Linked DNA regions of Homo sapiens. The protein of the gene in region 2 interacts with the protein of the main gene of each other region in a pairwise test. Each region holds a gene or a part of one and is shown on either strand. Other genes may lie near its edges.

Region 1 (4,494 bases), on a different chromosome or scaffold from region 2:
GTAAAGAAAGCACTTCACAAATAAAAAGATATTTAGAAAATATATTAAGCCGAATGAAAATTCAAAACATCAATATTTGTAGGATACTGCTAAAGCAGTACTTAGTGGAAAACTTATAGTATTAAACACCATATTAGAAGAAAAGATTTTAAATCAATGACTTTAGCTAAGCCATCTTAATAAACTAGAAGGGAAGAGCAGATGAAATCCAAAGTAAGTAGAAGAAAGGAAATAATAAAAAGCAAAATGGGAATAAATGAAATAGGGGGAAAAAGCAGCAGAGAAAATCACTGCAACCAAAAGTAGATTCATTTAGAATGTCAATAAAATGGATAAACCTATAGCCAGACTGACAGGGGGCAGTGGATGGGGAGGAGAGACACATTACCAATATTGAGAATGAGAGAGGTGGTGGCACCCCTACAGATTTTACAGATATTAAAAAGATGGTATGAACAAATATGTACCAACTTTTTTTTCTTTTCTCTTTTTTTTTTTGGAGAAGGAGTCTTGCTTTGTTGCCCAGGCTGGAGTACAGTGGTGCGATCTTGGCTCACTGCAACTGCCACCTCCCAGGTTCAAGTGATTCTCCTGCCTCAGCCTCCCTAGTAGGTGGGATTATAGGCATGCATCACCACGCCCGGCTAATTATTGTATTTTTAGTAGAGACGAGACTTCACCATGTTGGCCAAGCTGGTCTTGAACTCCTTAGCTCAAGTGATCCCTCTGCCTCAGCCTCCCAAAGTGCTAGGATTATAGGCATGAGCCACTGTGCCTGGCCAATGTTAAATTCTTAGCAAGATTTTAGCAGTTGGAATCCAGCAGTGTATAAAAAGGGTAATACATCATGACCAAGTGGATTTCGTTGGTTTAAGTTTGAAAATCGATGGATGTTATTTACTGTATTAACACAATAGAAAGGATGAGCCATGGGTTTGTCTCAATACATGGAGAAAAGGCATTTGACGGAACCCAGTATCCATTGCTGATAGAAGTGTTCAGCAAACTTGGAATAGAAGAGAATGCCCTTTAGCCTCATAAAGGACATCTTTTAAAAACCTACCATTGGCATTAAACTTAAGGGTAAAAAGAATGACAGTTTTTCCTCTTAGATCAGGAAAAATAAAATTTCTCTTCATCCACTTTTATTCAACAATGTACTGAAGGGTCTAGCTAATGTAGTAAGGCAAAAAAAAATTTTTTTTAAGAAAACGAATAAAAGGAATCCAGATTGGAAAGAAGTAAACTTGATTTTATTCACCGACAACATGATTGAATTTTTGTAGCAAAATTGTATATTTACAAAAATACTAGTGGAAGTAAGTGTAATAAGGTTTCAGGATATAAGATTAGTATTCAAGAAACAACTGTGTTTCTTTATGGCTGCAATGAATGATTAAAAAGGGAATTTTAAAACTGCCATTTGCAATAGTATCAAAACCAGGAAATACCGAGGCAGAAATCTGATGAAACAGTGTGCGCTCTGCACTGATAACTACTGCTCTGTTTCTAAGTGTCCCCCAGAGTTCATGTGTTAGAAACTGAAGCCCCAGTAAGAGAGTGTTGAGACATGGGACCTTCAAGAGGCGACGCGAGTGCTCACGGATGGACTCATGTCTTTATTGTGGATGCGAGTTGCTTATAAAAGCCAGTTTGGCCCTCTCCTGCTCTCTTTCTTGCAATGTGATGCCTTCGGCTACGTTATGACACAACAAGAAGGACCCTCACCAGGTGTGGCTTCTTGGTCCTTGACCTGGAGGACTTTCCAGCCTCCAGGAGAACTGTGAGCCAAATGAACTTTTATTTTTTTGAGGCAGTCTCACGCTGTGACTCAGGCTGGGGAGTGCAGTGACACAATCTCGGCTCACTGCAGCCTCCACCTCCTGGGTTCAAGCAATTCTTGTGCCGCTATACTCGGCTGAAGTTTGCATTTTAGATACAGTGTTTTGCCATGTTGGCCAGATGGGTCTTGAACTCCTGGCCTTATGTGATCTGCCCACCTCAGTCTCCCAAAGTGCCAGGATTACAGGCATGAGCTACTGCTCGCAGCCAGCTTCTAATGTTTATATTAATCAATTGCATAGGCAGTGGTATTCTGATAAAGCGTACCGAACGGATGAAGACAACTGCAAACACTGCTGAGAGAAATTTTTAAAGACCTAAATAAATGAAAAGATTTGCTGTTTTCATGGATCAGAAAACTCGGTGTTGTTAAGAAATCAAGAAATAAATTCTCAGCCAGGTGCAGTGGCTCATGTCTGTAATCCCAGCACTTTGGCAAGCCAAAGCAGATGGATCGCTTGAGGCCAGGAGTTTGAGACCAGCCTGGCCAACATGGTGAAACCCCATCTCTACCAGAAATTATAAAAATCAGCCTGGTATGATGGTGCATGCCTGTAATCCCAGCTCCTCAGGAGGCTGAGGTAGGAGAATTGCTTGAACCCGGGAGGCAGAGGTTGCAGTGAGCTGAGATCACGCCACTGCACTCCAGCCTGGGCGACAGAATGAGACTCCCTGTTAAAAAAGAAAAAGAAAGAAAGAAAGAAATTCTCCTTAAAATTCATCTGTATGTACATTCATTCCAATTCTAGTCAGAATTCCAACAGGCTTTCTGTAGAAATTAATAAGCTTATTCTAAAATTAATAGGGAAATGCAGAGGACCTCGATTACCCAAACAGCTTTGACAAAAGAAAAAGAAGACTTATGTGACATAGTTTCAATGCGTATTACAAAATGGCAATAAAATAATCAAGGCAGTCTGATAGTGGCATAAAGGCAGACAAACAGATAATTGCAACAGAGCAGAGCCTTCAGAGATAGACTCACACGTGTACAGACAATTGACTTTCAACAGTGGCTCCAAACAGGAACCAAAATGGCGCTGGCCTTCTAAATGGCAACACTGGAAATGCTGAGGGTTCCAACTTATATATATATAAAATTAGTGAAGAACTATCACTAAAGGGATAAATCAAGAGGAAAACGTAAGATCCAGAAAATAGATTCCAGCACATACAGGGCAGGAGTGAAGGGATGTCATGGACGGTAACTGCAGGAAGCGTAGGCATGAGCTACTGCAGATTAGAGCAGGAGGAGCTGAGAGGGAGGGGGTAGGGGGAAGGAACTGATGTGTTGGAGTTCACAGAGAACATTATTGATAGGTGTGTGGCAGAAATGTTGCAGAAATAATTTACAATCGGACCATAGAAAAACTGCATAGTTTTAAAATGTGGCAATTAGTAACTCCACTAAAAAAGGATTATGCTTGCACAAAAAAGGAGAGGTGGTTTTGTCAACTACTTGTCTTGACAGTGTGTATTATCTGCGGAGTCACAGTAATGCAAATCTGACTTCCTGATGAATGTAGCTGAGTGGAAATGGGGTTTGCTGTGTTTGCTGTCCACATTGCTCAGCATCTGAGATGTAGCCCTTTGTGAGAGAGCTGGTGCCCGAAGGGGGTGTCTCTTCTGCCTGTGCTCTGTTACTCAGGCCTGCCGTTGGTCACTCCATGTGCCTCCTCAGTGTTTGGTTGTGTCCAGCCCTACTCTATGGCAGGACAGTCTGCTTTACTTCATTTACTAGTTTCCTATCAGCCAGTTTTTAGGGGAAATCTTTTCTAGAATAACTTTGATTCTAGTGTGTTTTCTAGAATAACTTTGATCCTAATATGTTTTAGGAAAAATATAAACATAATATGCCGGGCATGCGGTGGCTCACATCTGTAATCTCAGCACTTTGGGAGGCCAAGGCAGGTGGATCAGGAGTTTGAGACCAGCCTGATCAACATGATGAAACCCTGTCTCTACTAAAAATACAAAAATTAGCCGGGCATGGTGGTGGGCACCTGTAATCCCAGCTACTTGGGAGACTGAGGCAGGAGGATGGCTTGAACCCGGGAAGCAGAGGTTGCAGTCAGCTGAGATTGCACCACTGCACTCCAGCCTGGGCAACAAGAGCGAAACTCCATTTAAAAAAACAAAAGACAAAAAATAAAATTATAAGTGCCTTTACTAGTCTTGTTTAAATAGGCTGATTCTTTCTCTTTTTTTCTAATGCCCCCTAGGAAGTAAAAAGAAAGAAAAGGAACGGCCAGAAATTTCTCCTCCATCTGATTTTGAGCACACCATCCATGTTGGCTTTGATGCTGTTACTGGAGAATTCACTGTAAGTTAACCTAGTTCGGGCCCATTTATAACGTTTAAAATAGCACTCAAACATTTTCCTTCATTATTAAATTTGAAATTAACATTTCAGGCCAGGTGCGGTGGCACACGCCTGTAATCCCAGCACTTTGGGAGGCCAAGGCTGGCAGATCATTTGAGGTCAGGAGTTCGAGACCAGTGTGGCCAACATGGTGAAACCCCATCCCTACTAAAAATACAAGAAAATTAGCCAAGCGTGGGGGTGTATGCCTGTAATTCCAACTACTCAGGAGGCTGAGGCAGGGGAATCATTTGAACCTCGGAGATGGAGGTTGCAGTGAACAGAGACTG
Region 2 (6,242 bases):
ATGGCTACTGAATTTTTGTTTTCAGCCCCTATTTTTTCTCATAAACTCTAGACTGCCTATTGGCCACTTTCAAACAGCATCCATACAGTTTGTTCATTTGCAAATATTTATTGAGTGCCTACTATATGCCAGCCACCATGCTAGGCACTGGTTTACAATAGTGAACACAATTCCTGCTCTCCTGGGAGGAAAAAAAAAACAGATAGGCAAATAAATGTGTATTTACAGTTTTACAGTTTTTGATCGCTGCTGTGTTCCATAAACAACCTAATTGTGACATGTATAACATAAAATTAATTCTATCATCTTCCCTTCAAACCAGATCTCCAGGCACCGCCTTCCACCCAGTCAACCAATCAAAAAACGGAAGTTATCTCAGACTTCCTGACCTCCATTGAGATGCCTGCCTCCCATCCTGCCCTGCCCCCATCTGGCACTGCCAACATCGGCACCAAAACCCAAGAATCAAATCTTGGAAATAAGAGAAATTGGATCAGAGTTGGAATAAAGAAAGAAAAAGTTTCTGAGACTTGAAATTAGACTGAAGGTATTAACACATTTAAAGACTGTGTCAGCCGGGCGCAGTGGCTCACGTCTGTAATTCCAGAACTTTGAGAGGCCGAGGCAGGCGGATCACCTGAGGTCAGGAATTAGAGACTAGCCTGGCCAACATGGCAAAACCCCGTCTCTTAATAAAAAATACAAAAAAATAAAAATAAAAATTAGCCGGGTGTGGTGGCAGGCGCCTGTAATCCCAGCTACTCGGGAGGCTGAGGCCAGAGAATCGCTTGAACCTGGGAGTCAGAGGTTGCAGTGAGCCGAGATTGCGCCACTGCACTCCAACCTGGGCTACAGAGTGACACTGTGTCCAAAAATAAAAAAATAAAAAATAATAATAATAATAATTAGCTGGGTGTGGTGGCACGCGCCTGTAGTCCCAGCTACTCGGGAGGCTGAGGCAGGAGAATTGCTGCTTGAATCCGGGAGGGGGATGTTGCAGTGAGCCGAGATCATGCCACTGCACTCCAGCCTGGGCGACAGAGTGAGACTCCGTCTCAAAAAACAAAAACAAAAACAAAAAAAACTCTTGGACCTGAACCTTTCCTGCATTCTCCAACCCATTCTCTCACTTTGTCCCTGTTGAACCCTACATCTGACCATGCCGAACCACCTGGCCTTTTCCGAGGTACCCTGAAGACTGCTCCCCTTGTACAGAAGGCCCTGCTCCACCTTACAGCCCATCTCACCAATGCCTGGTCATCTTGTGAGGCTGAGATCAAGTGTCATCTACTCTAAGGAATCCTTCCTGACATCTGGGTAGATCTGACCTCTTCCGGCCGGGCGCGATGGCTCACGCCTGTGATCCCAGCACCTTGGGAGGCCAATGCGGGCGGATCACGAGGTCAGGAGTTCGAAACCAGCCTGGCCAACATGGTGAAACACCGTCTCTACTAAAAATACAAAAATTAGCCGGGTGCAGTGGCACGCGCCTATAGTCCCACCTACTCGGAAGGCTGAGGCAGAAGAATCGCTTGAACCCACGAGGTGGAGGTTGCAGTGAGCCTTGATCATGCCACTGCACTCCAGCCTGGCGACAGAGCGAGACTCTATTTCAAAAGAAAAGAAAAGAAAAGAAAAGAAAAGAAAAGAAAAGAAAAGAAAAAAGTTAAAAAAAAAAAGATCTGACCTCTCTCCTTTACATTCAAAACAAAACAAAAAGAATATTCAGATTCTTAGTTTTATTTTCGACTTCCTGTCCTTTTCTGATATATCCCCCAAATAGTCTCTCACTGGCACATTTTTGTCATACACTGCATCTCAGCCTTAGCCTTTCTTTCTGGTCTGGTCTTTTCCTTTTAATCTTTTTTCTCTTTTTTTTTTTTGAGACGGAGTCTCACTCTGTTGCCCAGGTTGGAGTGCAGTGGCATGATCTTGGCTAATTGCAACCTCGGCCTCCCGAGGTCAAGTGATTCTCCTGCCTCAGCCTCCTGAGTAGCTGGGATTACAAGTGCGTGTCACCACACCCGGCTGCTTTTTGTATTTTTAGTAGAGATGGGGTTTCACCGTGTTGGCCAGGCTGGTCTCAAACTCCTGACCTCAGGTGATCCACCCACCTTGGCCTCCCAAAGTGCTGGGATTACAGGCATGACCCACCACGCCCAGCCCTCTCCTATTTTTTCCTAGCCAGAATTGAGAAGTCCATTTCTATTAATAGTTACACCCATTTTTCTTAAACTATTTATCGTCCAATTATAATCCTTTGAACACTAGGAAGGAACACAATTTCCACACACATTCACATATATAGGCAACATTTGCCAAGCACACATCTGCACCCTATCATATGGCTATAGTTTGCCTTATTGCAGTAGGGGTATTTGGAGGATTCAGAACATGTTTTCACCTGGAATGGAAAGGAGGCAAAGATTGTGTGCTAATGGAAATCATTAAGATCAGTAACCCAGGGCTCTCAAGTATGGACAGTTAGAGATACTGACTCGGAACTGAGATTTAGGGAAAACAGTTATTCAGTACCTATTTCTAGAATGTTTGAATATACAACATATAGACAGTGTATAGTTTATAGTCAAAATATAATGTACAGCCAGTCCAGTTCCCAAACCGATTGTCTGGGTTCACCCCTTATTAGCTTTGCCACTTGTTATCTGTGTGACCTCAACTAAATTACTTTACCTCTCTGTGCCTCAGTTTCAATATCAGTAAAATAGAGATAATGACAGAATTTAGCTCTCACGGTAATTTTGAGGACTAAAAAGTTAATGAAAGATTTGAACAGTGCATTGATATACTAAGTGAAATGCAATGTTTAGTTATCTTTTATCTGGTCATTTTATTAGAATCTCTACAAAATACAGAAACAAAAGTTTTATTATGCAGTCTTATTTTTGTTCACTGTTACGTAACACATTTTACACATTTTCCGCATTCCACGCCCCGCCCTTCAACAACAACCACCACAAACTCCGACCGTCCTTTCCAGGCCCTTTCCCTCTATAAACCTGCCGTTTTCTGTCTCCCAAGTCATCCCAGTTTAGAACTGCTCCAGGAAATAATGAATGAACAGAGAGAGCCTAGTTTGTTTATTTATTTACAATCCACTAGTCTAATCTAGTTTAGATCCAGCGGCAATTTTTGGGGTGCCAAGGAGGAAAGAAGGAGATGGCAGTGCGGGGACAGGGCAGAGCCTGGGCCAAAGGAAGCCACACCCAGTTCTTGCCCTGCCCTGCCCGACACAGGCAACGTGACCCCAAGCGACAGCCAGCTGATGCTTGCTTCTCCGAGCCCGGCGGTCAGCAGCCGGAAGTAGCCCGCCCGGGGGCGGGGAAAGGTGCCTTAAGGAGGAGCTAGGGGCGTGCGGCCAATTGCAAGCGACTGTCCTAGCGAAGAGGGCGGAAGAGGAGAGATCCAGTTCCGGACGCGGCCGCCGCCGTCGCCGCCATCTGTCACCTCCACTCCGGCATCAGCAGCCAGTCGCCCGTGTCCCGCCTGTCTCCTCGGCGGAGCCTGCTGCCCGTCCTGCCACCTCTCTGCTCTGTTCTTGTCTCTGCCTTCATTCCCGAATGGATCTGGTAGGAGTGGCATCGCCTGAGCCCGGGACGGCAGCGGCCTGGGGACCCAGCAAGGTAAGTGGCAGACGAGACTGGAGTACTAGCCTTGGTCACACGGGCTGGATCTCTCGGAAAGCTCGGAGAGGGCGGCTTCGTGGGCGATTCGGGAAGTTCTGGGGCGGGACCCCGCGGACCTCGGCAAGGGGGCACTGGCCGCGGGGGTGCCGGGATGGGGATGGAGGGAGCGGAAAGAGGGGCGGAGGGCGGCTGGATCTCCCAAAGGCCACCTTGAGTGGTTAGGGCTCTCTATTTCTTCAGCGTACTTTCTGTATCACCGTAGCATGTATTTGAGCAGGACTGGCTTACACACCCTGATGATACTGGAGGGGAAACAAGCACGATCTTGTTTTTCACTGGCCAAGTGAGTCAGCCGAATACACAGCTAGCCAGACAGAAAGTTGGTTTAGGAAGCTGTTTACTTAATTTGATAAGTGTGGTTATCCCAGTTTGGAAATGTCTTGTTTTTGAAGCAGTAAAAGATAAAACCCAGGCGCACCCTCCTCCCTCGACGCTGAAATTCAAGTGCGCACCACGGACTGTAAAGTGCTTATGAATTTCATTATCTGCCTAAGCTTTGACGTTTAAACTTTTTCATAGAGTGGCAAACTAAAGACCTTTATTTCACATTTGCTTTCTGGTTTCCAGGCAGGTCCTTTTCATGATACTTTGATTATATGGATGAAAACACTTTTCTGCCACTTTATGGAGGGTCTGCTTGAGAGCAGAGTGCTTCCATTGGGATTTTTTGTTCCACAAATTAAGGTCGTAAAGGAGTCTAGCTTTTTTAGCTTCATAGTTGTTCTTTACATGCTAACACAGAATATTTGTTCCCATTTAAAAGGTCTTATTAGATCTTCAGGCTAGGCCTTAACAGGAAAAGGGGTCAATAATTAGCTATTAAGTAACCAAAAGTTAATTTTGTAAAAGTTCTCGTACAGCTGTTGGAAGAATCTGAGATACTGCGTTGGCAAATGTGGTTAAGTCTGCATGTTATTTTGTGTATTTTTCCTTGAGACCTTGTTTACAAGGTCAAGATTAGCAGACATAAAAGGATGAAATCAGTAGACAGACTAGTATTATGAATATATACCCTGTATGTTAAAGTCCTTCAGTTAAGCATTGGCAGAGGCTGGTAAAAATGTCAAATGAGACAGACTCTATTCAGAATACATCCTAATCTCAGAACAAATTTCACTTACAAACTAATTCAGTAATAAACTATTTAACAGTCATATTTTTATTTAAGTGTACATCATCAGAACTATAAAATTCCATTTTCATTGTGCAACAAAAATGCTTCTGGGATTTATAGACGCTCTATTGGGAGGACAGTGTTTTGAAAGGCAAAACAATTAGAAACAGGCTGAAAGTACTATCATTAATCCTTTTTTTCTCTAACCTTTTGGAAAACCAAAGTGATTACAGAAGCCTACATGGAGGAGGTGAAGATTTGAGGAGGGTTTTGAAAAATGGAAGGATTCTCAAAACTTTTTAGTCAGGACTTCTTTCCTTCCTTCCTTCCTTCCTTTCCTTCCTTTCCTTTCCTTTCTTTCCTTCCTTTCTTTTCTTTCCTTTCTTTCCTTTTCATTTATTTATTTATTTGAGACGGAGTCTCGCCCTATCGCCCAGGCTGGAGTACAGTGGTTTGCTCCCAGCTCACTGCGACCTCTGCCTTCCGGGTTCAGGCAATTCTTGTGACTCAGCCTCCTGAGTAGCTGGGATTACAGGCGCCTGCCACCACGCCCAGCTGATTTTCGTATTTTTTTTTGTAGAGATGGGATTTCACCGTATTGGCCAGGCTGGTCTCAAACTCCGACCTCAAGTGTCCACCCGCCTCGGCCTCCCACACTGCTGGGATTACAGGCGTGAGCCACCATGCCCAACGTCTTTCTTTTTTTTTTTTTCTTTTTCTTTTTTTTTTTTGAGACGGAGTCTCGCTTTGTTGCCCAGGCTGTAGTGCAGTGGCGCGATCTCGGCTCACTGCAAGCTCCGCCTCCTGGGTTCAAGCGATTCTCCTGCCTCAGCCTCCCGAGTAGTGGGACCACAGGTGCCCACCACCACACCCGGCTAATTTTTTGTATTTTTAGTAGAGGCGGGGTTTCACCGTGTTAGCCAAGATGGTCTCGATCTCCTGACCTCGTGATCCGCCCACCTTGGCCTCTTTCTTTTTTAATTGAGACAGGGTCTCACTCTGTCACCCAGGCTGGAGTGCAGTGGCATGATCACATCTCACACTGTGCCTTGACCTTGCAGGCTCCCACCTCGGCCTCCTGATTAGCTGGACTACAGGCCAGTGCCACCACACCTAGCTAATTTTTGGGTTTTTTTTGAGACGGAGCCTCGCTCTGTCACCAGGCTGGAGAGCAGTGGCATGATCTCAGCTCACTGCAACCTCCGCCTCCTGGGTTCAAGCAATTCTTCTTCCTCAGCCTCCCAAGTAGCTGGGACTACAGGTGCATGCCACCATGCCCAGCTAATTTTTATATTTTTAGTAGAGATGGGGTTTCACCATGTTGGCCAGGATGGTCTCGATCTCTTGACATTGTGATCCTCCCACCTTGGCCTCCCAAAGTGCTGGGATTACAGGTGTGAGCCACCGCGCCCAGCCAATTT

What was found.
Region 1: the proteins of RIOK3 (region 2) and PAK2 interact in a two-hybrid assay, tested with the Homo sapiens proteins (one large-scale study listed by BioGRID and IntAct).

What each region holds. Positions count from the first base shown.
Region 1 is NC_000003.12:196,797,863-196,802,356, forward strand, and holds part of PAK2 (serine/threonine-protein kinase PAK 2), read left to right. Parts: intron 1-4,064; coding exon 4,065-4,165; intron 4,166-4,494. UniProt on the Homo sapiens protein: Serine/threonine protein kinase that plays a role in a variety of different signaling pathways including cytoskeleton regulation, cell motility, cell cycle progression, apoptosis or proliferation.
Region 2 is NC_000018.10:23,449,859-23,456,100, forward strand, and holds the start of RIOK3 (serine/threonine-protein kinase RIO3), read left to right. Parts: upstream 1-3,428; 5' UTR 3,429-3,581; coding exon 3,582-3,644; intron 3,645-6,242.